Regions from separate parts of the Homo sapiens genome. Here regions 2, 3 and 4 are each linked to region 1. Evidence: fine-mapped expression QTL. A gene starts in region 1. Each other region holds a variant in brackets. All regions are shown on one strand. Distances are between the middles of the regions.

Region 1 (8,200 bases):
ATAGTTTACATTTTTTAGAATTTGTATATCAGTGGAATTGTACAGCATGTGCTCTTTTTGGTCTGGCTTCTTTCACTGAGCATAATTAATTTGGGGATTCATCCATATTGTATCATGTATCAATAGTTCATTCCTTTTTATTGCTAAATAGTATCCCACCATATGATACACCACAGATTCTTAATCCATTCCCCTGTCGATGGACATTTGTTGTGTTTCCAGTTTGGGCCTATGACAAAGCTGCTGGGGTCTTTCATGGGCAAGTCTTTATGTAGACACGTGAAGCACATAATTCCTTAGGGAGCTGTGCTCACTTTCTTGGCAGCTCAGCAGCTGCCAAGACAAGATTCATCCTTTTCCGTCCCTGTAATTCAGCAGAGGACGAAACTGGCAGGCAGCATGCTTGAGTTTGAACCCTGCCCACCACTTGCAGTGTGACCTTGTGCCCCTCTTGGTGTCCTGGTTTTCTTTATGTTCCTACCTCCATGGGTTGTGTGAGCATTCCATGACTGTATGGATCTGAAGCATTTAGTGCAACGCCCAGCACAATGTTCAGAAATAGTAGCTGTTCTTATTTTGCAGGCACCTCTGAGAAGATCTATACAATCCGAAATGGGCTTCCTCTAGAATCTCCGAGCAGTTACCCTAACCCTTTGAAGTGGCTCCATTTCACAGAGGAGTTACTGAGTCCCAAAGCAAAGAGTGACTTGACAGGGTCGATCTTTGATTTGGGAGTGAATGCAGGCGTGTCCTGATACCCAACTATTTCCTAGTTGGGTGATGGGCAGAGAGGAAGTCGGAATTTTCCAATTACTTCTCAGAGTGTCTCCTAGAGAGTCCTGATAAGTAGCTCAGCACAGCCAACCAGAAGACTATGAGCCCCTAAGGGTTCATACAAAACCACACTCATTTATTCAGTCCCCCCGGCTCAGCAACCTGGAAACCCCGCAAAATCACAGTCAAATCGGGGGGAAAGAGATAAGGGTAGGGAGGCTGCCTACCCTCCTCCCCTGCCCCACAGGGCTCTAAGTAGCCCAAAAAGGGGCTCCTGTGTGTCTTAGGCAAGCAGGTCAGTCTCTGGAAGGTACTTACGCCATCTGGCATCTTTACAGACCAGGCCTCCGAACTCTGGCTCTGCCTCTTCCTAACTGTGTCAGGGTAGGCCAGGCTTGCCGTGGCAACACACAACTTGTAAGTTCAGTGGTTTAACAATAAAAGTTTATTTCTCATTTACACTCTATGAACAACATAGGTGTGAGGGTGCCAGAGTCTTAATGCTTCCACTAGAGCTGACGCACATCAGTTCCGCCACGTTTTATTGGTTAAAGTTGGTCACATGTCCACAGCTAGCATCAAAGAGTGAGAACATGCAGTCCTACCTTGTGCCAGAAGGCAGAGAGCCGGAAATATTTGGAGACAGCACTAATGACTATACACTAGCCAAGTGACCTTTGAGCTCATTTCCTCTTCTGCAAAATGGGGACGAGAACAGTATTTGCCTCATAGATTGTTGTGAGGATTAAAAGAGAAATGTTATGTAACACCCTTGGCACAGTGTGGCACATGGGTGAGGTTGAGGCCCGGGGTATTTGTGTACAATGAGGACCCAGCATGCCCAGCCTCCCTCCTCCCCTGTAAACACTGACCCTGAACCCCGAGGCCCGTCACTGAGTGGTTAGCAGAGGATGGATAATTTTCTGCAAATCTGTCTTCTCCCGCCCTCTGGATCTGACACTGACCACTTGTGCCATGCAAACTTCATTGCCATAAACTACGCCCCCACCCCCAGCCTCATTCACACTCATGTGAGACTTCTTATCCCTCACGTGACTGCTTTATGACAAATCTGCCCTTCTGTCCAGTTAGAGGATAAGAATCCATTGAAGAAGGGGTAGAGAATCCGAGGGAAATGGGAAGGAAATTAACATCTATTTTTTGCTGAGCACTGTGCTGGATGCTTGACCCACGTTACCTCATTTAAACCTCATAATAGTCCTGTAATGAAGTGAGTGTGATTATTCTCATTTTGAGATGTGGGAGCTGATGCTTGGAGTAGTTACACACAGGCCCAGGGTTACAAAGCTAGTCAGTTGCAGAGCTGGGATGTGAACCCAAAACTCGGTGACTCAGAAGACCACACTTCAGCTTCTGGGCTGTCTTTTGCTATTTCATTCAGAATTTTTTTTTTTTTTTTTTTTTTTTTGAGACAGAGTCTTGCTTTGTCCCCCAGGTTGAAGTGCAGTAGTGCGATCTCGGCTCACTGAAATCTCCACCTCCCGGGTTCAACCGATTCTCGTGCCTCAGCCTCCTGAGTAGCTGGGATTACAGGCATGTGCCGTCACATCTGGCTAATTTTTGTACTTTTTAGTAGAGATGAGGTTTTGCCATGTTGGCCAGGTTGGTCTCAAACTCCTGGCCTCAAGTGATTCACCTGCCTTAGCCTCCCAAAGTGCTGGGATTACAGGCGTGAGCCTCCACACCTGGCTTAGACCTGACTTTTATCCAGGCTATAAACTCACCAACTGCCCAACCACAGATGTTTAGCCTTTGGGTTCTATTGTGCTGCTGTGGAAACTGTCCTGCTTCTGGAGTACAGGGACTAGGCTTTTAGTCACTGCTCAGTCCCTACCTTACTATGCAACTTTGGACAAGTCCTTTTACCTCTCTGGGCCTGAGTTTCTTCACTGAAAATGAAAGGGCTGGACTAAATTTCTCAGGTTCTTTCCATATCTAGGATTTGGTAACATTGAGAATTGCCCACATCTCTTCCTGCCTTTGGCCCTAATACTGTATTAGAAAGCATCACAAAGTAGAAAGGCAGATAAAGATCCCACATTTGAAGTTATACAGAGCATTAATTAGACTCTCGTTATTATTTGAAACTAAAAATAGTTTGTTTTAAGATTGATGGCGTGTTTGTAATCCATAGCAGGTTTCTCCCTTCCTTGCTATTTATAACAACTCTGGTTTCCTCTGTAACTAAGTCTGTCTCCTCCTATAAAAGAGGAAGTCAGGCTAAGTCTGCTCCTGAGCTAAGATCTCCTGAGTCTGCACCCCAGGAGAGGCTCTCTGGAGCTCTGAGCTCCTGTTGCTGGGCAGAACTCGGCTTAGTCTCCAGGTGGGCATTGGAAGATATGGCTGGACTATATGCCAGCAGGATGGGCTATGCCTGCTCTCCCATGGAACCATGCATAGCTGCTGGGGTGTGGCTGGGTATTAGGACTGGAGGTCCAGAACGCTGTATCTTCCACTCCTACAAGTTTTGCTTAATGCTTAGAGTTTTTTTGCAAATGCCAATGCCCAGTGCTAACCTGAAGAAGATAAAAGGAAACAGGGCTCAAGTTCAGGCCACTTTTGGGAGACATTTCCAGGGCCTATAAGTATCTCTTAGGTTTTTGATTTGTTCCTATAGGGTTGTTGTTGAGAGCTGGGTGTCCTGGAAGATCTGGGCATCCCAGATGGCTGCCCCAAGTTGCTGCCGGATTATTTTAACTACAGTAGCGTGGGAGCTTCCTGCCTCAGAGAGGGCTCCCCACACCTCCCCCAGGTTCCCATCTGCCCAGACGCCCACAGCTCCTGTCAAGAGAAATGATGGAAGCCCCAAGATACCTGGGGGAAGGGCCTCAGCTCAGGACAAGAGCTGGGGCTCCAACCCCAGTCCAGTCAGAGAACTCTCAGGGCCAGCTCATGGTTGTATGCATGTGTGTGTGTTTGCCTGTTTCTGTGAGACAGTGAGGAAAGCATGGGGGTGGGGGAGATAGGCACACGGGCAGCTAATCCTGAGAAACTCTGGGGTTTGGGAAGGAGGGAAGGAAAGGAAAGCTGGAAGGGGATAGAGGTGATGGGAGAGAGGGGGATGGGTAAAAACCAAAGAGAGGAAGCAGTGGCTGTGCTGAAGCTGGACAGAAACTGAAAAGGGCAAGGCTTGTCCTAAACTTCCTCTGACCCATCTAACCTAAATCTCCCCACGCTGTGGTTTAAGCCTTTTTCCCACCTTGGTTCTCCATCTAGCCTCTGAGCAGCAGAACCCAGGGGGGATGTCTGGATGCTGGCTGCCCTGCTGCTCCCTGGTGGCCCAGGAGGGAGCTACTTCTGAGTAGCCGAAGTCCTGAGGCTCTGACATTTAGGAGACCTGAGTTTCCCGCCCGTGTGTATCCCTGCTTCCCCTGACTCAACACCCAGTGACCTGGAGGGATGCAGAGAGGGTGGGCAGCAGCTCTGGAGGCATTTCCCAGCAGTAGAACTGTGAGTCAGAAGGGTCATCTACTGTCGGAAGTCAGAGGGGACCTCCTGCAGGCAGGAAACCAGAGTTGGGCCCCAGAGAAGTCCAGAGATGAGTTGGCGGGAAAGTAGCTCTTCAGAATGCAACATTACCATCCGGGAAGGCTGAACCTGGAGTCCGCTGTGCCTAGAGGAAAAGCCTGGGCCGGCCTAGCTCCCTTCTGCCTGGACATCATCATCCCTTCCACCTTGGTGGTCATCTGGGAAGCCTGGAATAAGATATACATGTCCAAATCTGGAGTCTGTTGCTTATATGCTGGAATTCATACATGTGAGGCTCAGTTTCCCCATCTGCAAAATTTAAAAAGAATAAAAAAGCCTAGCTTACAAGGTTATAGGGAAAAAATGAGAATATGTGCATAAAATACCTTGTGTAGGTGGTCCATATGTGTTAGTCTCCTCCCCACGAATTATTTTGGTTGGAAGATGGGGAGGAATGTTGCAGGATATGACTGCAACATTCTGCTAACCTCCTGGTCCAGGAGAGGTGATCCCCTGGCCCCAGGGAGAGCTTCCTCTAGATTCAAATGCTAATAAAAGGTCCAGGATACCACCAAGACCTCTTCTCCAGCCCCCATCATGGGGGCACTGCTGGCGGTGCTCCTCCTGTTTGCCATGGGGATGAAAAGGATGTGTTGATTGGCCCTTGAAATTTGCCCTTGAAATTATCTTTGGTTTTGATTTGACCTTAATAGGTCAAGCCAAACAGGGATCTGAGCTACTGCATGAAGCAGTTATTGGCGGGGAGGGGGGTGTGAGTGGAGGAGGGAAGGGGAGGAAGATGGTACCAACAGATGCATCCTCAGACCCCAGTCCACACCCTTGCCAAAATCTCTGACATGGTTTCATCATCTGAGGGTAATGTAAGAGGCCTGGAGTCAGACTCCCCTTCCTCCCCTCCCCCAGAGATCCCCATCCACATCTGGGGCTGCAGCTGGGTCCTCCTCTTGGGCCCTTTCCAGGGGAGGGAGCTGGGTGAAGTGAGGGCAGCTGGTGAGGGGCCCTGTGAATGGCCCCAATGTTGGGAGGCAGGGGGCAGGGAAGAGGCGTCTGGGCTCAGAGGGAGGGAGATGGACTGGGAAGGGAATTGTGACTTTGCAGCACTGGTCTCCTCCTCCATCCAGGCCCAGCGTTAAAGTCTCCATGGTCCTCCTTGTCCTTTATACCCATTCCTGCAGGCAGCTGCCCTCCTTCCCTTCCCCACCCACTTCACCGCCCAGCCTCTCTACCCAGGTGCTCGGAACTGAGGGCCCCCTTTGTTCCCTCCTTTCCCCCAGGGCAGCTCAGGCCTCCCACACTGACCCTCTGGCCCCACAGCCACAACAAGCAGAGTGTGAGCCAGGCCCAGTGGGGTCATCTGTGGGTCATAAAGGTCAATGGGACAGTCGTCTAGCAGTAGGGAGGGGCTAGTCTTGGGCTAGGAGCCTGGCCAGGAATCAACTAAAACATGAGCTTTAAGATGCTGCAGGGTGGAGGTGGGGGAAATTTTAGTTAGGGGCTAGCAAGAACTCCCTTCGAGAAGGGTTGGCGAATTTACTGGAATAAATGCAGAAGGGAAGCTTTCCTGGCTCTTTTGAACTATAAACCGTCAATCGCTGTGGGATCCCCGGGAGACCAGGGTTCTTACCATGCTTACCCACGAACTCGCTCTGTAACCTTCGGTAGTTCCCCTCTTTGAATCTCAGTTTCTTCATTTATGAAATGAGGGTCCCATTGAAGCCGAGGTTCTGCTACTCCAGGAGCCGAGGTTCTAACGTGGTCTGCGTCCAGCGCCCCCACCCCTACTCCCACCCCTACCCCCACCCCCACCCTTCAATCCCGCCCCCTACCCCCAGCCACCCCGTGGCCGCGAGCCAAGAGGTCCCTTTAAAGGCGCGAGTCCCGCCCCCACTGCTCATTAGGGCTTTCGATTGGCGGCTCCTGGGCGGGGCGGGGCCCGGCCTGGGCTCGGGGCTGGCTCGGGGCGGGCTCGGGGCCGGATCGGCCCCCGCCCCCTTTGTTCGCGCTGCGGCGGGAGGTGGCTGCCGGGTGGGAGGTGTGTGCGCGTGTGCCGCGCCGTAGGGAGCGGCGGGTCGCGCCGCCGGCTGTCAGCTAGCTCCGCGCCGCCGCCCGATGGCGCGAGGAGGCGCGCGGGCCCAGCCCCGGGGGGCCGGCCGCGGGTGAGCCCCTCGGCCTGCCGCCCGCGAGCATGTCACCTCCAGCCGCCGCCGCCGCAGCCTCCGCCAGCCGCGCCCGCGCCCCCGCCTCCCGCAGCCGCAGCCGCTGCCTCGGGCATTGGCCCCCAGACCCCCGCCTCTGATCCACGCCCAGACCCTAGCTCCAGAGGGCCATGGCCGGCCAGGGGGACTGCTGCGTCAAGGTGGCCGTCAGGTAGGGACCCGGGGCGGGGAAGGGGGCGCGCGGAGAAGCCTCGGGCTTTGTCTCGCGTGGGCTTTGGGCGGGGGGCGCGAGCACCGCTTGGGCTGGAGCCTGCACTCCCGGAGGAGGGGCCGGCGTGGGACGGGATGGAGGGCGCCGCGCGCTGGCCAGTCTGCCGCAGGGGAGCGGCGACCCCGCCGACTACTGGAAGGTGGCTTTGTTTGGGTGGTAATTTTGGGCCCCTCTTGGGAGCCCTTAATGATCAGAAAATCGAATAAACAAGGAAATCCGGTATTTCACACCCAGCTCTGGCCCAGGCCGGAGCGTCTGTGCGTTTCCTCTTCGCCTCCCCACGAGGCTGCTGTCTCATACGGGGATACCAGAGAGGGAAATTTCCCCTCATCCATGCGAGTCAGCTAGTTATGTGCTCTTGGTCCAGCTAGCAAAGGCAGCACACCCACCCTGGGAGCCAGATCTGCAGACAAAGATCGGGTGCGGGGACCAACGGAAAAGCTGGGATGATGCCTTGGCCTTCTGTGGGAAGTCAATGGCTTTGGGGGAGAATCCTACCAGTCCTGTCCCAAGAGGAGATGGGCCTAGGAAGGGAGGAAGAGGTGTATCTGAGGTGCTTCTCTCTGAGAGGGCAGGAGGGTGTGATGCAGATGCCCCATCCTCAGGCACTCAGATAAAATTGAGCAGGGGAGGGTTGCCTAGACTTATCTGGGGTTCCATTCTCAACAGCTCCGGGACTTGAGCCGGCAGAAATGAGACAGGGAGAGGACATGGCTGGGTGGGTTCTATTGGGAGGGGTACACAAAGGTGCAGGAGCAGGAAATGCTGTGAAATTGAGCCATCTGTGTTCTTTGTGCTGGGTGGAGATGCTTCACACCTCACCACTTCTCCCAGTTTTTGCTTTGGGTTTTTCTCTTTGAGAGGGGTGTCTTGGCGGCAGAGTGCCAATCTGGAGCTGCTCACCAAGGTAGGGATGTGGCAAGAACATCTATCTCTGCCCCAGCCCTGTATGATGGAGGGGGCGGGGGATTGTCCAGGTCTAGGGTAGGTCTCTCAGGTCTCTAGATCCCTTGGGTCATATGTGACCCAGATTCCAGGGGTCCTAGGAGGTTGCTCCTAGACAGAGTCAGAGATGGCAATGAAAAAGCTTTCTTCTTCCTGCCCCAGGGCAGATGCCCCTTGCCACGGCCACCTGGCCAGGCCTCTGCAGCCCAAAGAGGAGCTGACACTGATCAGTGCTTGGGTGAAGGGAAGGAGATTGAGGCACCCCCACCCATGCACCCTAGGCAGCACTCAAGAATCACTTGAGCACAGCTTTCCTGGCCCTGAGCAGCCAGAGACAAAGAGGAGCCCTGCAGGTGCCTGGTGGGCTGACTGGGGCGGGGCCAGGCTGCTGCTGGGGCTGACATTGCAGCAGGATCTTGTGGAGGTCGAGGGAGGGGTGCATGGCTGGGGGGTGGGAGTGAGAAATGTAAATATGGCATCTGCAGCAGATTGGGAGAGTCCGAGAACACCATAAAAGGGAAATGAAGCTCTGGCCCCCACCCAT
Region 2 (5,000 bases), 26 kb after region 1:
GGTGAAAGCCATGCAGGAGGCCATCGATGCCATCAACAACCGCGTCACCCAGCTCATGAGCCAGGAGGCCAACCTGCTGCTAGCCAAGGCCGGTGAGTTGGGCTGTGCCAGGCCAGGTCAGAGCACCAACGGGCTAGGACTCCCTCCCCCGACATCCACCCCAGAGTATCAGGTGGACTAAGCCAGCCAGTCAATTCATAGTTCAACTCATTTATGCATTTTTTTTCACTTGATTTTAAAACATTTTTGTATGGCACAAGTAATACATGAACACATCCTTCTTGTTCAACATGCAAACAATACATCACTATATGAAGTGAAAGATTAAAATCGCCTCTCCCTGAACCCTCCACCCCAAGCCCTCTCTACTTCTCAGAAGGAACCTCTATGAGCAGCTTGGTGTGTATTTTCCCACACCTTTCTCAGTATTTGTTTCAAGTATGAATATGTATTCATATACATTCTTAAATGTGTGTATGATATAGACTACTTTTTCTATGTATGAGATTATATATATTGCTCTAAGACTTCCCTTTTTCATTTAGCATTATGTTTTATAAATCTTTCCATATTAAACCTACTTCTGGTTCACGCCTGTAATCCCAGCACTTTGGGAGGCCACGGCAGGAGAATCACTTGAACCCAGGAGTTTGAGACCAGCCTGGGCAACATAGGGACGCCTAGTCTCTACAAAAAATACAAAAATTAGCCAGATGTGGTGGCACATGCCTGTAGTTCATGTTACTTGGGAGGCTGAGATGGAAGGATTGCCTGAGCCCGGGAGGCTGAGGCTGCAGTCAGCTGTGACTCTAGCCTGGGCGACAGAGCAAGACCTTGGCTCTAACCAAAAAATAAAAATTTAAAAAAACCTACTTCTCTTCATCTTCTGCCATGGTGTCCCATATGTGACAATGATGAATAAATTTATTATAGTAGCCTTCTAGTGATGGGCATTTAGGTTGTTTCCAGTTTCTTGCTATTGCCAACAGTGCTTGTATACCTCTGTGCAAAGTATTTTTTCTATAGATTTCTTTTTGGAAAAGGCCCATATGAGCTGCCCTATTAGAGGCACAGATATAAGAGCAGTAGTATCAGTGGTGTTGAAGACCCTTGCTGCTATTTATCTTTTTTTTTTTTTTTTTTCTGAGACGGAGTTTCGCTCTTGTTGCCCAGGCTGGAGTGCAATGGTGTGATCTTGGCTCACCGCAACCTCCACCTCCCAGGTTCAAGCGATTCTCCTGCCTCAGCGTCCCGAGTAGCTGGGATTAGAGGCATGCGCCACCACGCCCGGCTAATTTTGTATTTTTAGTAGAGACGGGGTTTCTCCATGTTGGTCAGGCTAGTCTCGAACTCCCAGCCTCAGGTGATCCGCCCGCCTTGGCCTCCCAAAGTGCTGGAATTATAGGTCTGAGCCACCGCGCTGGCCTATTTATCTTCTTTATCGCACCCTTCTTCCCGCCGTCCCACTCCAGGCGATGGCAATGAGGCCATTGGTGCGCTGATCCAGAACTACATCCGGGAGATCGAGGAGCTACGGTGAGTGAGTGAGCTCCGGCAGGTGTGCGCGGGCTGGGGGCCTCGGCCAGGTGACGCCAAGGGCTGTGGCAGCTCACTCGGCCCCGTCCACTCGTTCTTCCTGTGCAGGACTAAGCTTCTAGAGAGTGAAGCCATGAACGAGTCCCTGCGCCGCAGCCTCTCACGGGCCTCGGCTAGGAGCCCCTACTCCCTGGGTGCTTCTCCAGCCGCCCCGGCCTTCGGGGGCAGCCCTGCCAGCTCCATGGAGGATGCCTCGGAGGTGATCCGCAGGGCCAAGCAGGACCTGGAGCGGCTAAAGAAGAAGGAGGTCAGGCAGCGGAGGAAGAGGTGAGTGGAGTGTCGTCCCCGCCCCTGAGAGCCCTCAGACCGCCCCAGTGGACCCTGCCCGTCCCCAAGGAGGACTGCTGCCCACCAGTGTTTAGGAGGGAACCTCCACGCCCCCAGCCCCAGGGGCTGCCTCAGTATTGCTTGGGAATTCATGGCGCAGATTTGCTCAGCCTTTTGGGCAACCTCCCTCCCCCACGTTCTCCTATGCCATCTGCTTTCCCCCAAGGAGAGGAAGGACTGAGCTGAGCCAAGGTCAGCTCTGGGTGGCCCTAGGGAAGAGCAGTGGGGTTCTCTGCAGAGTAGGAGCCAGTGCTCTCCCCGGCCTCTGGTGAGAGCCTTCCTTTTCTGCCGCTGCCGCCGTCCTGCCCATGTGCTCAGGGCAGGGGCAGCCTTCCTAATCCAGCTTCCCTGTCCTCCCTGAGCAGCCCCGAGAAGGAAGCCTTCAAAAAGAGGGCAAAACTCCAACAGGAGAACAGCGAGGAGACGGATGAGAACGAGGCGGAGGAGGTGAGGAGCACGGGCCGCCCCACCTCACCACATGCATGCCTTGTGTCCCTGCTGGGGTTGGCGGGGGCCCCATCCGCATCCTTGTATGGAGTGAAGGAGGCGGTTGGGTCTGCATCCAGTTGATCCTTGTACTTCCTTATATCTCTGACTGGTTACCATGGTGATCTCCATCCCCTAGGACCCCACCTCATCCCAAACGGATGATGCAGGTGGGGAGGCCCTCCTAGAGGGGTTCTGCGGTGGTGTTGGGGGAGGCGGCACTCTTCCAGGAGTAGGGGGTGGGCAGGGGGGCTCAGCTGTGGCCTGCCCCAATCCCCACCCTCCTGACACACCTGAGGCATTGTGTCGGGATGCACCTCTGCTTCTGGGCTCCCCTCTCTGAGGCCAGGCCCACCCC[A/C]ATGGTGCCTGGTGCCCAGGAGGAGGAAGAGCGAGACGAGAGTGGCTGTGAGGAGGAGGAAGGGCGCGAGGATGAAGATGAGGACTCGGGCAGTGAAGAGAGCCTGGTGGACTCAGACTCAGACCCCGAGGAGAAGGGTGCGTGGGCCTGAGCTGTGGGCTGTGGGGGATGCAATGCCTGGCTGCCAGTGCCCAAGTGTGGGGTCGGGCCCTGCTCAAAGATAATGGTGTCCAGGCCCCAGCACTCCCAGACGTGAAACCAATGACAACAGGCAGTCATGATGAGAATGATGGCAAACACTTCCTGGTCGTTCATTAGGTGCCAGGCACTGTGCTTACCTTAACCCTTTGAGCGGCTAGGTTCTTTCAGTCTTCACTGCAACTGTATGCATAGGGGTGGTGAGCTTCCCTATATCACCACAGAGGAACAAGCTCACAGGGGTTTAGTGACCTTCCCCAGTGTGGTCCATGCAGAGCAAACATGAATGTAGGCCTGACTGGTGCCAAAGCCCTCTCCTCTAAATGGAGATGCCTGCCCCTTCAGCCCTGCCTGCTGCCAGCCCTGGCCCTAGCCCTGTAAGTTGCTCTCAGCCATCTCACCCTCCTCCACTGAAGCTGGTCCCATGTCATCTGGAACAGGTGGATGCTGGCCTCGAATGGCTGGGAAGGACGTGTAGATCCCCCCTGCCAGCTCCTGAGCCCTACCTTGCCTTTCTGGAACTGCTCTTTAAATGTGTTCCTCCTTCTGGCCGCATTCTACCTGCATTAGGATTTATCATTTTGCCCAGTCTCTGGTCACTGATTGGTCATGGCTGACCAAAGGAGGGTCCCAGCTCCCCAGCACTGGCACATCTGCTCCCCAATTTGCCCCTCGCCCTAACGCTGGGCTGAGCCTGATTGTGCCCCCATAGAGGTGAACTTCCAGGCGGACCTGGCCGACCTGACTTGTGAGATCGAAATCAAGCAGAAGCTGATCGACGAGCTGGAGAACAGCCAGCGGCGGTTGCAGACGCTCAAGCACCAGTATGAGGAAAAGCTGATTCTGCTGCAGAACAAGATCCGAGACACACAGCTGGAGCGCGACCGTGTGCTGCAGAACCTCAGTGAGGCCACCGCCATGCCCCTCCACCCCATCCGGACCCTCCCTTTTCCCTGAGCCCCTCCTCTGTCAAAAGCAGCTGGTGTGTTGGGGTTATCCTGGCCTTCTAGGCAAGGGACTTCCCAACCTTTGACTGTGGTCCTTTGACCCACAGTTAAAGGTTCTTACGTCTAACCCTAGTTCCTATGAAACATTGTAAATTGATTTTTTTTCTTTGCTATCACGTCATGTATTAGAATTCTTTATATACCTAGGCACGCGAACATGACACTCCCAGCCTTTCCTCCTGCACTCAGTTCCTTGGGTCTTTTCCTTTGGACCTGTTTGTAACCGTTCTTACATTCTATCTTCATTATGCTGCTCTTCAGCCCATTCATTCCATTTTTTATTCATTCATTGATTTACTTATTCAGCAAACACATGTTGAATATGTCTTACAGAGCAGACATTGTTCTAGTGCTAGAGATATTGGAGTGGACAGAATCCCTGCTCTCGTGCAGCATACATTCTAGTGGGGAAAGACAAACATAAACGAAAGAGCAGAAACTATAGTGTGTCAAATGGTGATAAGTATAGCCAGGAAGGGGAACAGGAACTACTGAAGAGTGAGTTGGAGTTTTGTTTTGTTTTGTTTTGAGACAAAACAAATCAAAAATCTCTCTCTGTTGTCCAGGCTGGAGTGCAGTGGCGTGATCTCGGCTAACTGCAACCTCTGACCCCCGGTTCAATCGATTCTCCTGCCTCAGCCTCCTGAGTAGCTGGGACTACAAGCGCCCGCCACCACGCCCGGCTAATTTTTGTATTTTTAGTAGAGACAGGGTTTCACTATATTGGCCAGGCTGGTCTTGAACTCCTGACCTTGTGATCCGCCTTCCTTGGCCTCCCAAAGTGCTGGGATTACAGGCATGAGCCACCGTGCCTGGCCGAATTGGAGTTTTTTAAAGGATGGTCGTGAAGACTTCACTGAGCAAAGACTTGAAGGAGTTGATAGTGCTAGAGCAGCACCAACCAGGGGAAGAGCGTCCCAGACAGAGGGAACAGGAGATGCCAAGGCCATAAGGGTGCCATGTGCCTGGCATTTTGGCAGAACGATAAGGGGACCAGGATGGTTAGAGCACAGTGAGAGGGGACAGGT
Region 3 (8,200 bases), 340 kb after region 1:
TTTAGTAGGGAAGAGCTTCTTGTTAGCTCTTGAATTTTTATTTTTTTTTTTTTTACCATCAGTTCCTTTAAATGAGGAAGCAAATAAGGATCACATACTACATTTAGTTAGTATGTTTCTTTTAAACTATGGGTTCCTCCCCTGTTTCTGTCACTCTCACTTTTCTTTCCTTGAAATGTATTTGTCGTTTTTCCCGTAAAGTTTCCCACAGTCTGAATTTTGCTAATTGCATCCCACTGATGTCGTTTAAAAGATTCCTCTATCTGTTATATTTTCTGTAAATGAATACATCTAGAGGTTCAATTCAATTGAGGTTCAATTTTTTGGTGAGATACTTTGTAAGTGGTTTGTGTACTTTCATTAGAGACACACAATACATGGTTGTCTCTTTGTGTGAGGCTGATTGATCAGTGGATTCAGGCTTTGCCAGGCTGAATCATATGCTATAAAGTTCTCCGTCAGCTTTTCCCCTAATGCTTTTAGCAATCATTGGTGATCTTTGCTTGCATCCATTATTTCATTAGAGATTGCAGCACTGTGATATTCTAATTCTATTATGCCTGCTCTACTCATTAGCTAGAATATCCCCATAAAGGAAAACTTTCTTTCATCCACTAATGGTTACCCTGAGGTACAGTTTATACAGAAAGGTCAGACAATCGTTTGATTCTTTCTTTTTACTTACACATTTTAAAATTGTAAGTTGATTCCCTAGCATCCTCCAAAAGTAACCCATGAAAATTTTAGGTTTTTTTCTTTTTTTGGTCATTATGAAATCTATCTACATGTAAGATGAACATAAGTAAGGCTAGGTAAAATTATTATTTATTATTTTTCAATTTCTACATATGAAAGGAAATCAATTCCACAGCCTACTATATGACACATTTATGCTACTATGATTATTTTAAAAAGCAATTAAACAGTAAACTAAATACTGTTTTTTTTTTAGTGACAAGGTGAAAAATTAAAATTAAGAAAATATACAAATTGATACTTGCCTATTTATAGAAAGCAAATTAGGTTAAGATGTATCAGCCATATTCATAGCAAAATTTTAATTGACTCCAAAAATGTAACATCTTCACATTTCTCAAAATCTAATTCAAATCAGAAAATATTTGCAATGCTTTTTTGAAATGTTGTTTTGGGAATAATTAAAATGGCACAGTTATTTAAAACTGTGACCTTCCAGAAAAACAGGCTATCCAGGTTTACAGTGCAATCTTTTGCATGACTTAACCTTATAAAAAGTATGGAAACTCTAAGTGTAGGGATAAGAATGTTTAAGAGGGAGAATATTGGGGCCAGGAGCTCCCTTTGGTTCTATTCTTTTCCAAAAAAATCTGCAAATGGCACCTGCTAATGCTTTCTCTAGTGTGAGGGCCATCAATTACCCTAAGCTGGAAAATAAATTTCTATCATTTTGTTGGTAGCTTGCTAGATTATTAAATCTTGTAAGTAATTCAAATATTTTTGTATCAGGTACTGCCAAGGTGCTGGTGATACAAAGGTAAAAAAGTCAGAGTGTTTACCTTCAGGGATTTTACAGTAGAGTGAGTAAGGCGGCCCAGGAAACAGGCAGGAAACCCTAGTGAAAAGCTCTGATATAGCCCCAGTGTGAAATTTTTCTTCCAAAATAATTATTACATTATAACACTGAGTGAAAGCCTAATCTTGCATTTGCTTATAAGGACAAACACACACCCCCAGTGCACTCTCCTCCCACCCCCATCACTGTCCTTTTGCTTAAATATAATCTCCAAGGGATGCAAGCACAACTACATCCTTGGCTCTTATAAACTTGGGACATTGCTGGGCGCGGTGGCTCACGCCTGTAATCCCAGCACCTTGGGAGGCCGAGGCGGGTGGATCACCTGAGGTCAGATGTTCAAGACCAGCCTGGTCAATGTGGTGAAACCCTGTCTCTAATAAAAACACAAAAATTAGCTGGGCGTGGTGGTGCATACCTGTAATCCCAGCTACTTGGGAGGCTGAGGCAGGAGAATTGCTTGTACCTGGGAGGTCGAGGTTGCAGTGAGCTGAGATTGTGCCACTGCACTCCAGCCTGGGTGACAGAGTGAGATTCCGTCTAAAAAAAAAAAGTAAATAAAAATAATAATAATAAACTTGGGCCATTACCGTACATACCTAACACTTCTGACAGTAGGTTTCAGCCCAGCTATGGGTCTGCCTGCCTCACCAAAGAAAGAAGAGCCTTCAGTTCTCCACCTTATTATTCAGGGGTAGGTCATAATCCATCAATTAATACTGAAAGGATTTAAACATATACATCTGCGGTCATGTTTTTTTGTTTGTTTGTTTGTTTGTTTGTTTTGAGACGGAGTCTCGCTCTGTTGCCCAGGCTGGAGTGCAGTGGCGCGATCTCGGGTCACCGCAAGCTCCACCTCCCAGGTTCACACCATTCTCCTGCCTCAGCCTCCCGAGTAGCTGGGACTACAGGCGCCCGCCACCGCGCCTGGCTAATTTTTTTTAAATTTTAGTAGAGACGGGGTTTCACCATGTTAGCCAGGATGGTCTCAATCTCCAGACCTTGTGATCCTCCCGCCTCGGCCTCCCAAAGTGCTGGGATTACAGGCGTGAGCCACCGCGCCAGGCCTCGGTCATGGTTTTCAAACATTTTTACTCCAGATCCTGTGTTTAAATGAAATCACCCCTCGGTATAAAACTGAAAGCTGCTACCCTCATTCCTGATTTCCGAGCATCTCTGCAGAATTCCTGCTGTTTTTCAGAAAGCTGACTTCAAGAATAAACATTAAAACAAAACGAAAAACCTTTAACTTGAATATTTCTTGCAAATGCTTATGTTCATCGTTTCTTTTTTTTTTTTTTTTTTTTGAGACGAAGTCTCACTCAGCTTCCCAGGCTAGAGTATGCAGTGATGCGATCTTGGCTCACTGCAACCTCCGCCTCCCAGGTTCAAGCGATTCTCTTGCCTCAGCCTCCTGAGTAGCTGGGATTACAGGTGCACACCACCACACCCAGCTAATTTTTGTATTTTTAGTAGAGATGGGGCTTCACCACGTTGGCCAGGATGGTCTCGATTTCTTGACCTCGTGATCTGCCCGCCTCAGCCTCCCAAAGTGCTGGGATTACAGGTGTGCACCACTGCGCCTGGCCTATGTTCATCCTTTCTAAGGACACATAGTCTTCTTACTTCATGTGATAATAATGATAATATTTTATATTTTATAAAGCTCTTAACTTTTGGCTGGGATCAGTGGCTCATGCCTGTAATCCCAGCACTTT[G/C]GGAGGCCGAGGTGGGTAGATCACTTGAGGTCAGGAGTTCAAGACCAGCCTGACCAACATGGTGAAATCCTGTCTCTACAAAAAAAAAACAACAAAAAAAAAAACAAAAAAAACCACCAGAAAAATTAGCCAAGTGTGGTGGCATGCACCTATAGTCCCAGCTACTTGGGAGGCTGAGATAGAGAATCGCTTGAACATGGGAGGTGGAGGTTGCAGTGAGCTGAGATTATGCCACTACACTCCAGCCTGGGCAACAGAGCGAGACTCTATCTCACACACACAAAAAAAGCTCTTAACTTTTTCAAGTACTTTTCCATCAGTTATTTCAGATTTTGTGGGCTATGTCTCCCACAATTTAATGTAGCCATTTTAAATTTCATGGTGTATATCTAAGAGGAAAATTTGATATTATAACATGTTTATGGATTTTTCCCACTGTTTGAGTAGTATTGCCTTTCAACTAAGTAGACCTCTTTTAAGCAACCATGATCGCTCATACTTAAGTCCAGTTATCATCTGACACTGAATAATCCACCTACCTGCAATAATCGATTAATCAACACATCAAAATATGCTATAATAAACAGAAAATCCCTAATTTCGACAATGCTTTCATATAATTTGTAGGCTATATTTTAACAAGTCATTTTAATTCTCACAGCACATTATTACACTGTTAAATTGAAATTTAATTTTTTTGCAAGCTGCATTCATTGTTGTTAATATTTATAACTGTTAAGGGATTATAACCAAATGATATCTGGTCCTGGGATAAGGAAAGAGCAAGAATGCAATCTGTTAAATTGGATTAAAGTATTAAGCTCAATTTCTGAAAGCACACTGAATGTATTCCCATAAAAATTAAGATTTTGAAGTGCAGAAGTTTCTTATGATGCAGCAAACAATGAGAAGTCAAAGATGAAAAGGCATTCAGCCTGAAATGAATCCTGCATAAAATGAAGAAAATAGAAACACTCACAGGTTTCATTATTTTAAGGGAAAAAAAACCTTCTATTTTACAGTAGAGAACAATAAGATGTGGGAAATGGAATGGGAGAATGGAGCAGTTTTCTTCTAGGGACATGTATTTAAGAATGGTTTTGGCCGGGCCTGGTGGCTCAAACCTGTAATCCCAACACTTTGGGAGGCCAAGGCAGGCGGATCACCTGAGCTCAGGAGTTTGAGACAAGCCCGGGCAAATGGCAGAAATTAGCCGGGCGTGATGGTGGGTGCCTGTTGTCCCAGCTACTCAGGAGGCTGAGACAGAATTGCTGGAGCCTGGCAGGTGGAGGTTGCAGTGAGCCAAAATCACGCCACTGCACTCCAGCCTGGGTGACAGAGAGAGACCTTGTCTCAAAAAAAAAAAAATGCTCTCAAACCCCTGAAACGCTCTACTAAATTCTGTTGCCTTGTTGAGATAATCCACTAAAACCAATAACTGTTCCTTTTTTCTTACAAGTAAAAACACTTTCTTATTTATTTATTTATTTATTTATTTATTTATTTTGAGACAGAGTCTCACTCTGTCACCCAGGCTGGAGTGCAATGGCGCAATCTAAGCTCACTGCAACCTACGCCTCCCAGGTTCAAGTGATTCTCCCACCTCAACCTCCCAAGTAGCTGGGACTACAGGCATGCACCACCACACCTGGTTAATTTTTGTATTTTTAGTAGAGACAGGGTTTCACTATGTTGACCAGGCTAGTCTCAAACTCCTGACCTTGTGATCTGCCTGCTTCGGCTTCCCAAAGTGCTGGGATTACAGGTATGAGCCACTGCGCCCAGCGATACTTTTTTATTGTAGGAGATATTTATGAAGAAGAAGAAAAAGAAATTACCATAAGCCCACCATCAGAGATAACTACTATTAACACTTTTAACAGCTTTACTGAGATTCACATCCCATAAAATTCACCCATTGAAAGTGCACAACTCAATTTTTTAAGTGTATTTAGAGTTGTACCATCATCAGCACCTAGTTTTAGAATAATTCATCACCCCAAAAAGAAACCTATTAGCATCACTCCTCATTTCCCTAACACACATTTCCCCCTACTCAGTCCTAAGCAACTACTAATCTATTTTTTGTCTCTAGAGATTTGCCTATTCCGGATATTTCATATAAATAGGATCACAGTATGTGGCCTTTTGCAACTGATTTATTTCACTTGGCATAATGTTTTCAAGATTCCTCCATGTTGTAGCAGGTATCTGTACTTAATTTTTTTAAATTGCCGAATAGCATTCCATTGTATGTACATAACATAATTTGTTTATCCATTTATTATGGATATTGGGTTGTTTCCACTTTCTGACTGTCATGAATAATGCTGCTATAAATATTCATGTACAAGTTTTTGTTTGAATACTTGTGTTTAATTCTCTTAGAATCTAGGAGACTGAAATTTCTGGGTCATATGGTATCCCTACGTTTAATATTTTGAGGAACTGCTAAATTATTCTCCAAAATGGCTGTACCACTTTACAGTCCCATCATCAATGTATAAAGGTTCCAATTTCTCCACATCCTGACAACCCTTTATATTGTCTGCCAACTATATATATATTGCTATCCTAGTAAGTGTGAAGTGCTATCTCATTGTGGTTTTGATTTGCATTTCTCTAATTACCAATGATGTTAAGCATCTTTTCATGTATTGGTTATCTGCATATTTTCTATGGAAAAGGGTCTATTCAGATCCTCTGTCCTTTTAAAAATTTGTTTTTTTTTTAAAGTATTAAGACTTCATTATAAATTCTGGTTACAAGTCTCTTATCAGATATATATTAATTACAAATCATTTATTCCATTCTATGAATTGTCTTTTATTTTCATGATAGTATCACTTGCAGCACAAAAGTTTTTAACTTGATGAAGTCTACTTTATCTATTTTTTTCTTTTGTCTCTTACGCTTTTGGTGCTGTATCTTAGAAGGTTTTGTCTGACTCAAGGTCATGAAAATTGTGCCTGTATTTTCTTCTACAGATTTTCTAACTTTAGCTCTGACATTAGAGATTAGAGTCTGATCCATTTGATTTAATTTTTGGTAAGTGTGAGGCTGGGGTTAAACTTAATTCTTTTTTTTTTTTTTTGAGACGGAGTTTTGCTCTTGTTGCCCAGGCTGGAGTGCAATGGCGTGATCTGGGCTCACAGCAACCTCCGCCTGCTGGGTTCAAGCGATTCTCCTGCCTCAGCCTCCTGAGTAGCTGGGATTACAGGCATGCGCCCCCACGCCTGGCTAATTTTGTACTTTTAATAGAGATGGGGTTTCTCCATGTTGGTCAGGCTGGTCTCAAACTCCCGACCTCAGGTGATGTGCCCACTTCGGCCTCCTAAAGTGCTGGGATTACAGGCGTGAGCCACCATGCCCAGCAAACTTAATTCTTTTATACATGGATATCCAGTCATCCCAGCAACATTTATTGAAAAGATTATTCTTTACCCTCATTGAATTGGCTAGACGCCCTTGTTAAAAATCAATTGACCATAAGTGAAAGGGTTTACTTCTGGACTTTCAATTCTATTTTTCTGACCTATATGTCTATGCTTGTGCAACTATTAATATTTGCTATGAATTCATCTTTTTTCATATAAATTTTTTCACATTTATTTTTTCAAAACCATTGAGTCATACCAAGCATGCAGTTTTTAACTTTTTTTCTCTTAATAGGCCATTAATATCCTCTGTCATTAAATATTCAACCTAATTTTTTTTTTGTTGAGACAGAGTCTTGCTCTATTGCCCAGGCTGGAGTGCAGTGGCACGATCTCAGCTCACTGCAAGCTCTGCCTCCCGGGTTCACACCATTCTCCTGCCTTAGCCTCCTGAGTAGCTGGGATTACAGACACCAGCCACCACGCCCGGCTAACTTCTTGTAGTTTTAGTAGAGACGGGGTTTCACCATGTTAGCCAGGATGGTCTCAATCTCCTGACCTCATGATCCGCCTGCTTTGGCCTCCCAAAGTGCTGGGATTACAGGCGTGAGCCACCGTGCCCGGCCTATTCAACCTAATTTTTAACGGTTGCATTATATTCCATTGTACAGATGCATAAAAATTAGTTAAACTAATCTCTTACTCAATACTTAAGAGATTGTTTTCAGAATAACATTATCTTTAACATAATAAACATCCCCAAAATATAGCTCTATTTGTATCAGTAATTACACCATAAGAAAAAAAACCTAGAAAGAAAAATTGCTAAGTACAAATATTTTTAAGCACTTGATTAAAAAATACTGCTATTGTATTAATTGACTAGCAATGTACAGGAGCGTGAGTTTCTTTATATGCTTACTAAAGCTGGATATTATCATTTAAAAATCTTGACAAATTTTGAATTCACATTTTATCAATGATTTGTAAGAAGGATATCTCAAACTTAGAAGTTTTTGATAGATTAAGTCAAATACCCAACTTTCCCCATATTTTAAAGATCTCAAATTATGTATATACATGTATACATACGTGTGTGTGTACACACACACACACACACACACACATTTTAGTTTCTTGTAGAGATGAGGTTTCACTATGTTGCCCAGGCTGATCTTGAACTCCTAGGCTCAAGGGATCCTCCTGCATCAGCCTCCCAAAATGCTGGGATTATAGGCATGAGCCACGACACTCAAACAAAAATCTCAAATTTTAATGTTATTTTTATTTTCTATATGTAGTACTGCCTTATTTTGCCTCACAGAGTAAATTGCCATTGAAAGAAAACACTTTGAAGAAAGTGACCTAATGAAGCAATCAATAAGATATAGATTTACAGAGACAGGGTGACTACTCCAGCAAGGCCTCACACGGTTACTTTACATCGATGTGGTCACCAAAGTGAAGTTAGCTATGTAAGTTCTGAAAGTAAATTTGATCAGTGATTCAGAGAGTTGATTGGTCTCTGATGAAAGGACTCACGGTAACCAACT
Region 4 (8,200 bases), 240 kb after region 1:
CCATATTGGCCTTACTATTTATTTAATTTTTAACATATCTAACTAGCTCGCACAAAAAGTAAATCTCTAAGAGGGTCTTAAAGGAAAAGAATAACAATCACAGGTGCTAACTGCAACAGAATACATCTTTGAAAGGGACCACAGGAATAAGACTGTAAATATAACAGATTTTCCTGTTCTCAACTTCCAGTGATATTTCAAGCTATCCAACTAAAGCATAAAAAGAAAAAAGGCCTTAAAAAAATGAACAAAGCCTCAGAGCCTCATCGGTGACCTGTGTGTGGGACAATAGCAAGCAGTTATACAAATGGAGTCTAAAAAACATGGTGGGGGATAATATTCAGAGAAATAATGGCTGAAATTTTTCCAATTTTGATGAAAACTATAAACTCAAGGATATGAGTAGCTTTAAAAATCCCCAACGGGGTAAATACAAAGAAAAATCCATTAAGGCACACCATAACCAAATTCCGAAAAAAAAAGAAAGAAATCTTAAAAGCAGCTGAAGAAAATCAAATTACACATTACATACAGAGGAAATCTGATAAGAATAACATCTGACTTCTCTCAGAAACAATGCAAGCCATAAGACACAGAATGCATCTTACTCAGCAAAAATAACCTACAAAAATGGAGGTAAAGGCCGGATGCAGTGGCTCACGCCTGTAATCCCAGAACTTTGGGAGGCCGAGGCAGGTGGATCACCTGAGGTCAGGGATTCGAGACCAGCCTGACCAACATGGTGAAACCCCATCCCTACTAAAAATACAAAAATTAGCCAGGCATGGTGGCATGTGCCTGTAATCCCAGCTATTTGGGAGGCTGAGGCTGGAGAATCACTTGAACCTGAGAGGCGGAGGTTACAGTGAGCCAAGATGGCACCATTGCACTCCAGCCTGGGCAACAAGAGCAAAACTCCGTCTCAAAAAAAAAAGGAGGTAAAATAAAGATAACTTTTCTCAATGTTTATTGATCTAAAGATGTCACTAGCAAATGTGCACTACAAAAAAATGTAAAAGAAAGAAGACTTTAGTTTCTGGTCTGCATGTAAAAACCTTAGCAGTCACTCTGTTCTAACAACAAGCACAAAGCTGAACAGAATGAAGTATCAACAATTCTAGGTAGATCTGAAAGAAAGGTGAGAACACAAGGCAAACCACCAGCCCAAAGGATGGAGAGACAGACAGGCAAAGGGAAGTCACAGATTACCAGAGCAAAGACTCACAAACAGAAACAGCCAAGGGAACCAGTGCTGGAGAAGGAAAACTAAACTGTAACTGATGAATTGTTGCAGGTTCAGAGTAAACAAGTCTGAGAGTTAAAACTCCAAGGGATCAAGTTATAGGGAGCTTTACCTTCAAGAGCTCAACCAGGCTCTGGCTTGAACAGGTTCTCACAATAAATATCAGAAACTGTCCCCAACCCTTCCCCCCAGCCCCGCTGCCCCCATGGTTCCAGTGGGAGGGGAGAGAGAATTTCTAAATATACTAGAGCACTCCATTCTTCTTAACAAGGCCTGCCCTCAGAAGAAACTAGGTTAAACCAGAGCTTAATCTGTTAAGGTACTATCAAAGCCTAACTGACCTGGGAGAGGGAAACATTCAAATCCTGTCCCCTCTAGCCTTCCTGACCCACCTAAAGAAGGAGAAAAAAACCTGAGAAACATTTATGAAGTCCACAGTCCAGAGGCATAGGCTCACTAAAAGCCTGAGACCTAATTATAGGACTATAGAATGCTTCTCCTCTCCCCCACACCTTACCACCATATTATAGCAAGGTTGCAGGATACAAGGTTAACATACAAAAGCCAAACACATTCCTATATACCAACAATGAACAAGTGGTATTTGAAATTAAAAACAAAATACCATTTTCATTAGCACCCCCAAATTATAAATACTAAGTATAAATCTAAAAAAATGCATAAGATCTATGTGAGGAAAGCTATAAAACTGATTAACAAAATCAAAGAACTAAATAAATGGAGAGTCCATGTTCATGGATAAAAAGACTCAGTATCATCAAGATACCGGTTTTTCCCAACTTGATCTACAGATTCAATGCAATCCCAGTAAAAATTCCAGCAAGTTATTTTGTAGATATTGATGAATTGATCTAAAGTTTACATGGAGAGGCAAAAGACCTAGAATAGCAAATAATATTGAAGGAGAAGAATAAAGTTAGAGAACTGATGCTACCCACCTTCAAAGCTCACTACAGAGATTCAGTAATCAACACAATGTGGTACTGGCAAAAGAACAAATAGATCACCGGAACAGAATATAGAGCACACGAACAAAGTCAACTGATCTCTGACAAAGAAGCAAATAAGGCAATGCAGTGGAGAAAGACAGTCTTTTTAACAAATGGTGCTAGAACAACCAGACATCCACATGAAAAAAAAAAGACTCTAGACAGACTTTACAGCCTTCATAAAAATTAACTCAAAATGAATCACAGACCTAAATGTACAACAAAACTATAAAACTTCTAGAAGATAACAGAAGAAAAACTAGATAATATTGGGCTTGGCAATGACTTCTTAGATACAAAACCAAATGCACAATCCATGAAAAAATAATTGATAAGCTGGACTTTATTAAAATAAAAAATTTTGCACTGCGGAAGGGTGTCAAGAGAATGAAAAACATAAGCCACAGACTGGGAGAAAACAATTGCAAAAGACATCTCTGATAAAGGACTGTTATCCAAAATATACAAAAAACTCTTAAAACTCAGAAAACAACCCAATTAAAAAACAGGCCAACAACCTTAACAAACACCTCACCAAAGAAGATATAAAGATGGCAAGTAAGCATATGAAAAGATGTTCTGGCCGGGCACAGTAGCTCATGACTGTATTTCCAGCACTTTGGGAGGCTGAGGTGGGCGGATCACCCGAGGTCAGGATTTCGAGACCAGCCTGGCCAGCATAGTGAAACTCCGTCTCTACTAAAAAAAAAAAAAAATACAAAAGTCAGCCAGGCATGGTGGCAGGCACCTGTAATCCCAGCTACTTGGGTAGCTGAGGCAGGAGAATTGCTTGAACCCAGGAGGCGGAGGTTGCAATGAGCCGAGATTGTGCCATTGCACTTCCAGTCTGGGCAACAGGGTGAGACTCCGTCTCAAAAAAAAAAAAAAAGAAAAAAAGAAAAGATGTTCTAAGTCATATATTATCAGGGAAATGCAAATTAAAACCTATTAGAACGTCTAAATCCACAACACTGACAACACCAAATACTGGACTGGAAAGTTCCTGTGGAACAACAGGAACTTTCATTCACTGCTAGTGGGAATCCAAAATGATACAGCCACTTTGGAAGAGAGTTTGGTGATTTCTTACAAAACTAAACATATTATTACTCTATGATCCAGCAATCACACTCCATGGTATATACCTATAGGAGCTGAAAACTTATGTCCACATAAAAACCTAAACACAGATGATTATGTAAGCTTTATTCATAATTGCCAAAACTTGGAAGCAACCAAGACATTCTTCAGTTGATATATGAATTTTTAAAACTGTAGCACATTCAGACAACAAAATATTACTCAGTGCTAAAAAGATGTGAGCAATCAAGTTATAAAAATACATGGGAGGAAATTTAAGTGCACATTATTAAATAAAAAGTCAATGTGAAAAGGCTACATTCTTTATGATTCCAACTACAGGCACTCCTTGGATATATTGCAGGTTCCATTCCATTCCATTGCAATAAAGCAAGTAGCATAATAAACCGGGTCACACAATTTTTTAATATCCCCAGGCATATAAAAGTTATGCTTATACTGTAATCTATTGAGTGCAATATCATTATGTCTAAAAAACCAATGTACCTAACTTAATTTAAAAATATTGTATTGCTAAAAAATGCTAACAATCACCCAAGCCTTCAATGAAACACAGTATTTTTGATGGTGGAGGGTCTTGGTTCCATGTTGTTCGATCAGAGTGGTGATTGCTGAAGGAGGGGATGGCTGTGGCAATTTCTTGAGACAACAAAACTTGCGTGCTGATTGGCTCTTCTTTCACCAAAAATTTCTCTATAATATGTGATGCCATTTGATAGCATTTTACCCACAGTAGAACTTCTTTCAAACGTGGAGTCAGTCCTATCAAACTCTGCCGCTGCTTCACCAACTAACTTGATATATAATACTGTAAATCCATTGTTTGTTGTCATTTCAACAATGTTCACAGCATCCCCACCAGGAATAGATCCATCACAAGAAACCACTTTGCTCATCTG[T/C]AAGAAGCAACTCCTCATCCAGACAATTTTGATAATGAGATTACAGCAATTCAGTCCTATCTCCGGGCTTCACTTCTAATTATAGTTCTCTTCCTATTTCTACCACATCTGCAGATACTTCTGCCACTGAAGTACTGAACCCCTTAAAGTCATCCCTAAAAGTTGGAAATCAACTTCTTCCCAACTCCTGTTCATGTTGATATTTTGATCTCCTCCCACGAATCATGAATGGCATCTAGATTGGTAAATCCTTTTCAGAAGGTTTTAAATTTACTTTGCCCAGATCCAACAGAGGAATCACTATCTATAGCAGATATATACTTAGAAAATGTTATTTCTTAAATAAAAAGACTTGAAATTCAATATTACTCCCTGATCCATGGGCCACAGAACAGAAGCTGTGTTAGCAGGCATGAAAACATTCATGCCCTTGTCCCTCTCCATCACAGCTCTTGGGTGACCACGCGCATTGTCAACGAGCAGTGATATTTTGAAAGGAATCTTTTTTTTTTTTTTCTGAGCAGGTCTCAATAAGGGCTTAAAATATCCAGTAAACCATGCTATAAATAGATGTGCTGTCATCCAGGCTTTGTTTTTCTACTTATAGAGCACAGGCATAGTCAATTTAGCATAGTTCTTAAGTGCCCTAGGATTTTCAGAATGGTAAATGAGCACTGGCTTCGATCTAAAGTCACCAGCTACATTAGCCCACATAGCCCATAACAAAACAGTCAACCTGTCCTTTGAAGCACTGAAGCCAGTCACTGACTTCTCCTCTCTAGCTATGCAAGTCCTATATGGCATCCTCTTCTAAAGGAAGGCTATTTCATCTACATCGAAAATCTTGCTTAGGCTGGGTGCAGTGGCTCATGCCTGTAATCCCAGCACTTTAAAAGGCTGAGGTTGGTGGATCACCTGAGGTCGAGTTCCAGACCAGCCTGGCCAACATGGCAAAACCTCGTCTCTACTAAAAATACAAACATTAGCTGGGCATGGTGGTGGGCGCCTATAATTCCAGCTACTCAGGAGGCTGAGGATGGAGAAACGCTTGAACCCGGGAGGCGGAGGCTGCAGCGAGCTGAGATTGCGCCACTGCACTCCAGCCTGGGCGACAGAGCAAGACTCCATCTCAAAGAAAAAAAAAAAAAAGAAAGCAATTTATGGCTTTAAGTGCTTGTATCAGAAAAGAAGAAAGCTTTAAAATTAATGACCTAAGAGTACATCTTAAGAAGCTAGATTTTTTTAAAAAGCCAAAATAAGAAAAAGAAAAGAAATAATAAAGAACAGAAATCAATGAAACAGAAAACAAGCAAAAATTAGTTTAAAAAACTGAAACAAAGAGCTGGTTTTTAGAAAAGATTAACAGAATTGATAAACCTCCATATATATTAATAACACCAGGAAAGTAAAAAGGGATATCACCACAGGTTCTATAGATATTAAAAAGATAATAAGGGAGTATTATAACCAACTTAATGACAATAAATTGACATATTTAGATGAAATGGACAAATGTCTTAAAAGATATAAAATAACCAAAATTGGCTGGGTGCCGTGGCTCACGCCTGTAATCCCAGCACTTTGGGAGGCCAAGGCAGGTGGATCATTTGAGATCAGGAGTTTGAGACCAGCCTGACCAACATGGATGAAGCCCCTTCTCTACTAAAAATACAAAAAATTAGCCAGGAGTAGTGGCACATGCCTTTAATCTCAGCTACTTGGGAAGCTGAGGCACAAGAATCACTTGAACCTGGGAGGCAGAGGTTGCAGTGAGCCAAGATCACGCCACTGCACTCCAGCCTGGACAACGGAGCAAGACTCTGTCTCAAAAAAAAGAAAATATCAGCCAGGCACATGGCTCACGCCTATAATCCCAGCACTTTGGGAGGCCAAGGCAGATGGACTGCTTGAGGTCACGAGTTCGAGACCGGCCTGGCAAACATGGCGAAACCCTGTCTCTACTAAAAATACAAAAATTACCCAGGTGTGGTGGGGGGACACCTGTAATCCCAGCTACTTCGGAGGCTGAGATAGGAGAATCGCTTGAACCTGGGAGGCAGAGGTTGCAGTGAGCCAAGATCAGGCCACTGCACTCCAGCCTGGGCACAGAGTGAGACTCCACCTCAAAAAAAAAAAAAACAAAAGAAAAAAAAAGAAAACATCAAGCCCCGGTGGCATACCTAGTGAATTCTGCCCCACATTTAAGGAAGAAATTACAGAAATCCTAAGTGAAGTCTTTCAGAAAACAGTGGAGTAGGGAACACTTTGCAACTCATTATATAAAAACAGTATTACCCTGATGCTAACACAAGACAAAGAAATGAGAAGAAAAATATCTCTCACGAACATGGCTGTAAACACCCTTGAGAAAATATTAACAAATTAAACCTAACAATATATAAAAGAGATAATTTACCGTGACCAACTGAGTTTAACTCCAGGAATTCAAGACCAGTTTAATATTTGAAATCAACGTAACTCACCTATTAACAGGATAAATGAGAACAGCCATATGATTATCTTAATAGAGGCAGAAAAAGCATTTGAAAAATACAGCAGTTATTCATGATTTTAAAAACATAAACATACATATATTTCTTAGCAAACGTGGAACAGAAAGGCACTCCCTTAACCCGAAAAAGAACATCTTCAAAAATCCTACAGATAATATCACATTTAACAATGGGAACTCAACAGATTCCTGATAAGATGAGGAATAAGACAAAAATGTCTGGTCTCACCACTTTTACTCAACATTAACTGTTAGTGTTTGGCAGTGCAATAAGAAGCGGGGAGCAGACCACATACATAGTGGAAAGGAAGAAGTAAAACTGTGTTTATTCACAGACAACATGATTGTTTACGTTGAAAGTTCTGACAAATCCACAAAAACATACTAGGAATAAATGTATATAGCAAGGTCACAGGATAAAAAAAATGTTCAAAATTCAATTGTATTTCTATATATTAGCAATAAATAATTTAAGAATTAAATCTGAAATGCAATTCCAAATCAAAAATATGAAAGATTCAACAAAGTGCATATGAATCTCATATGCTAAAAACTATAAAACACTACTGAAATAAATTAAAGAATACTTAAATGAGAAGAGAAACCATGTTTTCACTGGAAGACACAAATTGTTAAACTATTAATTCTTCCCAAAATGGTCTATAGATTCAACACAATTCCAATCTAAATCCTAGCAAGCTTTTTTTTTAATAGAAATTGACAAGTTGATTCTAAAATTTATATGGAAATGCAAAGAACCTAGAATAACGAAAACAATTTTGATAAAAAACAACAAAGCCGGATGGCTTACACTAACAAGTTTCAAGACTTATTATGAAGCTACATTAGTCAAGACTGTGTGGCACAGCCTAACAGACATCTAAATCAATGGAAGAGACACAGGTGTCGACGTCAGTCAATGAGGAGACAACAGTCTTCAATAAATACTACTGGAACAACTAGATAATCTTGTTAAAAAAAAAGGGTAAAATGAACCTCGACCACACTATACAAAAAAACTGATCCAAAATGAATCATAGTTCTAAATGAAAAAGCTAAAACTGTAAACTTCGAGAAGAAAACATAGGGGAAAAAAATCTTTACAACCATAATATAGGCAAGAAAAGATTTCTTAGGACATAAAAGCACTAACTAAAAAAGAAAAAAATTGTAAACTGGTCTTCATCAAAATTTAAAATTCCTTGAAAGACACCACGAAGAAAATGAAACGCAGGCTGGGCATGGTGGTCATTCCTGTAATCCCGGCACTTTGGGAGGCCAAGGCAGGAGGACTACTTGAGCCCAGGAGTTCAAAACTATCTGGGCAACACAGTGAGGCCCTGTTTCTACAAAAAAAAATTTTTTTTTTAATTAGCCAGGTATGGTGGCAATCGCCTATAGTCCCAGCTACTTAGGAGGCTGAAGAGGGAGGATT

Direction of the effects. Alleles are on the strand shown, and positions count from the first base shown. SD is a standard deviation of normalised expression in the study named. Not every link is listed here.
For the expression in whole blood of the gene that starts at base 6,280 in region 1, allele T in region 4 goes with a lower level than allele C (large effect, 1.1 SD a copy in Lepik 2017).

Evidence for each region. PIP is the estimated chance that this variant, and not a neighbour inherited with it, causes the effect.
Region 2: its variant is fine-mapped to the expression of KIF21B in whole blood (INTERVAL, PIP above 0.99).
Region 3: its variant is fine-mapped to the expression of KIF21B in blood mononuclear cells (TOPMed, PIP above 0.99).
Region 4: its variant is fine-mapped to the expression of KIF21B in whole blood (Lepik 2017, PIP 0.95).

Annotation. Positions count from the first base shown.
Region 1 is chr1:201,021,794-201,029,993 of GRCh38, reverse strand. KIF21B (kinesin family member 21B) reads left to right here and starts at 6,280. Exons shown (of 35, transcript NM_001252102.2): 1 at 6,280-6,651. The coding sequence starts at 6,611. It overlaps LOC101929305 (a long non-coding RNA gene), which reads right to left and starts at 6,045. Exons shown (of 4, transcript NR_188464.1): 1 at 5,909-6,045; 2 at 4,375-4,490. RefSeq lists enhancers at 1,139-1,433, 7,478-8,085 and silencers at 5,555-5,712, 6,064-6,423, 6,824-6,873.
Region 2 is chr1:200,997,253-201,002,252 of GRCh38, reverse strand. KIF21B (kinesin family member 21B) reads left to right here. Exons shown (of 35, transcript NM_001252102.2): 9 at 1-92; 10 at 1,473-1,536; 11 at 1,645-1,863; 12 at 2,289-2,370; 13 at 2,787-2,904; 14 at 3,678-3,869. Among named protein-coding and RNA genes, the nearest start is that of KIF21B, 24 kb to the left of the region's middle. RefSeq lists an enhancer at 1,651-2,151. The variant A/C (reference allele first, on the strand shown) is at 2,768.
Region 3 is chr1:200,684,201-200,692,400 of GRCh38, reverse strand. DDX59-AS1 (DDX59 antisense RNA 1) reads right to left here. Exons shown (of 3, transcript NR_110787.1): 2 at 1,971-2,092. Among named protein-coding and RNA genes, the nearest start is that of DDX59, 18 kb to the right of the region's middle. The variant G/C (reference allele first, on the strand shown) is at 3,271.
Region 4 is chr1:200,783,586-200,791,785 of GRCh38, reverse strand. The region is part of intron 2 of CAMSAP2 (calmodulin regulated spectrin associated protein family member 2); the gene reads right to left. Among named protein-coding and RNA genes, the nearest start is that of CAMSAP2, 49 kb to the right of the region's middle. The variant T/C (reference allele first, on the strand shown) is at 4,254.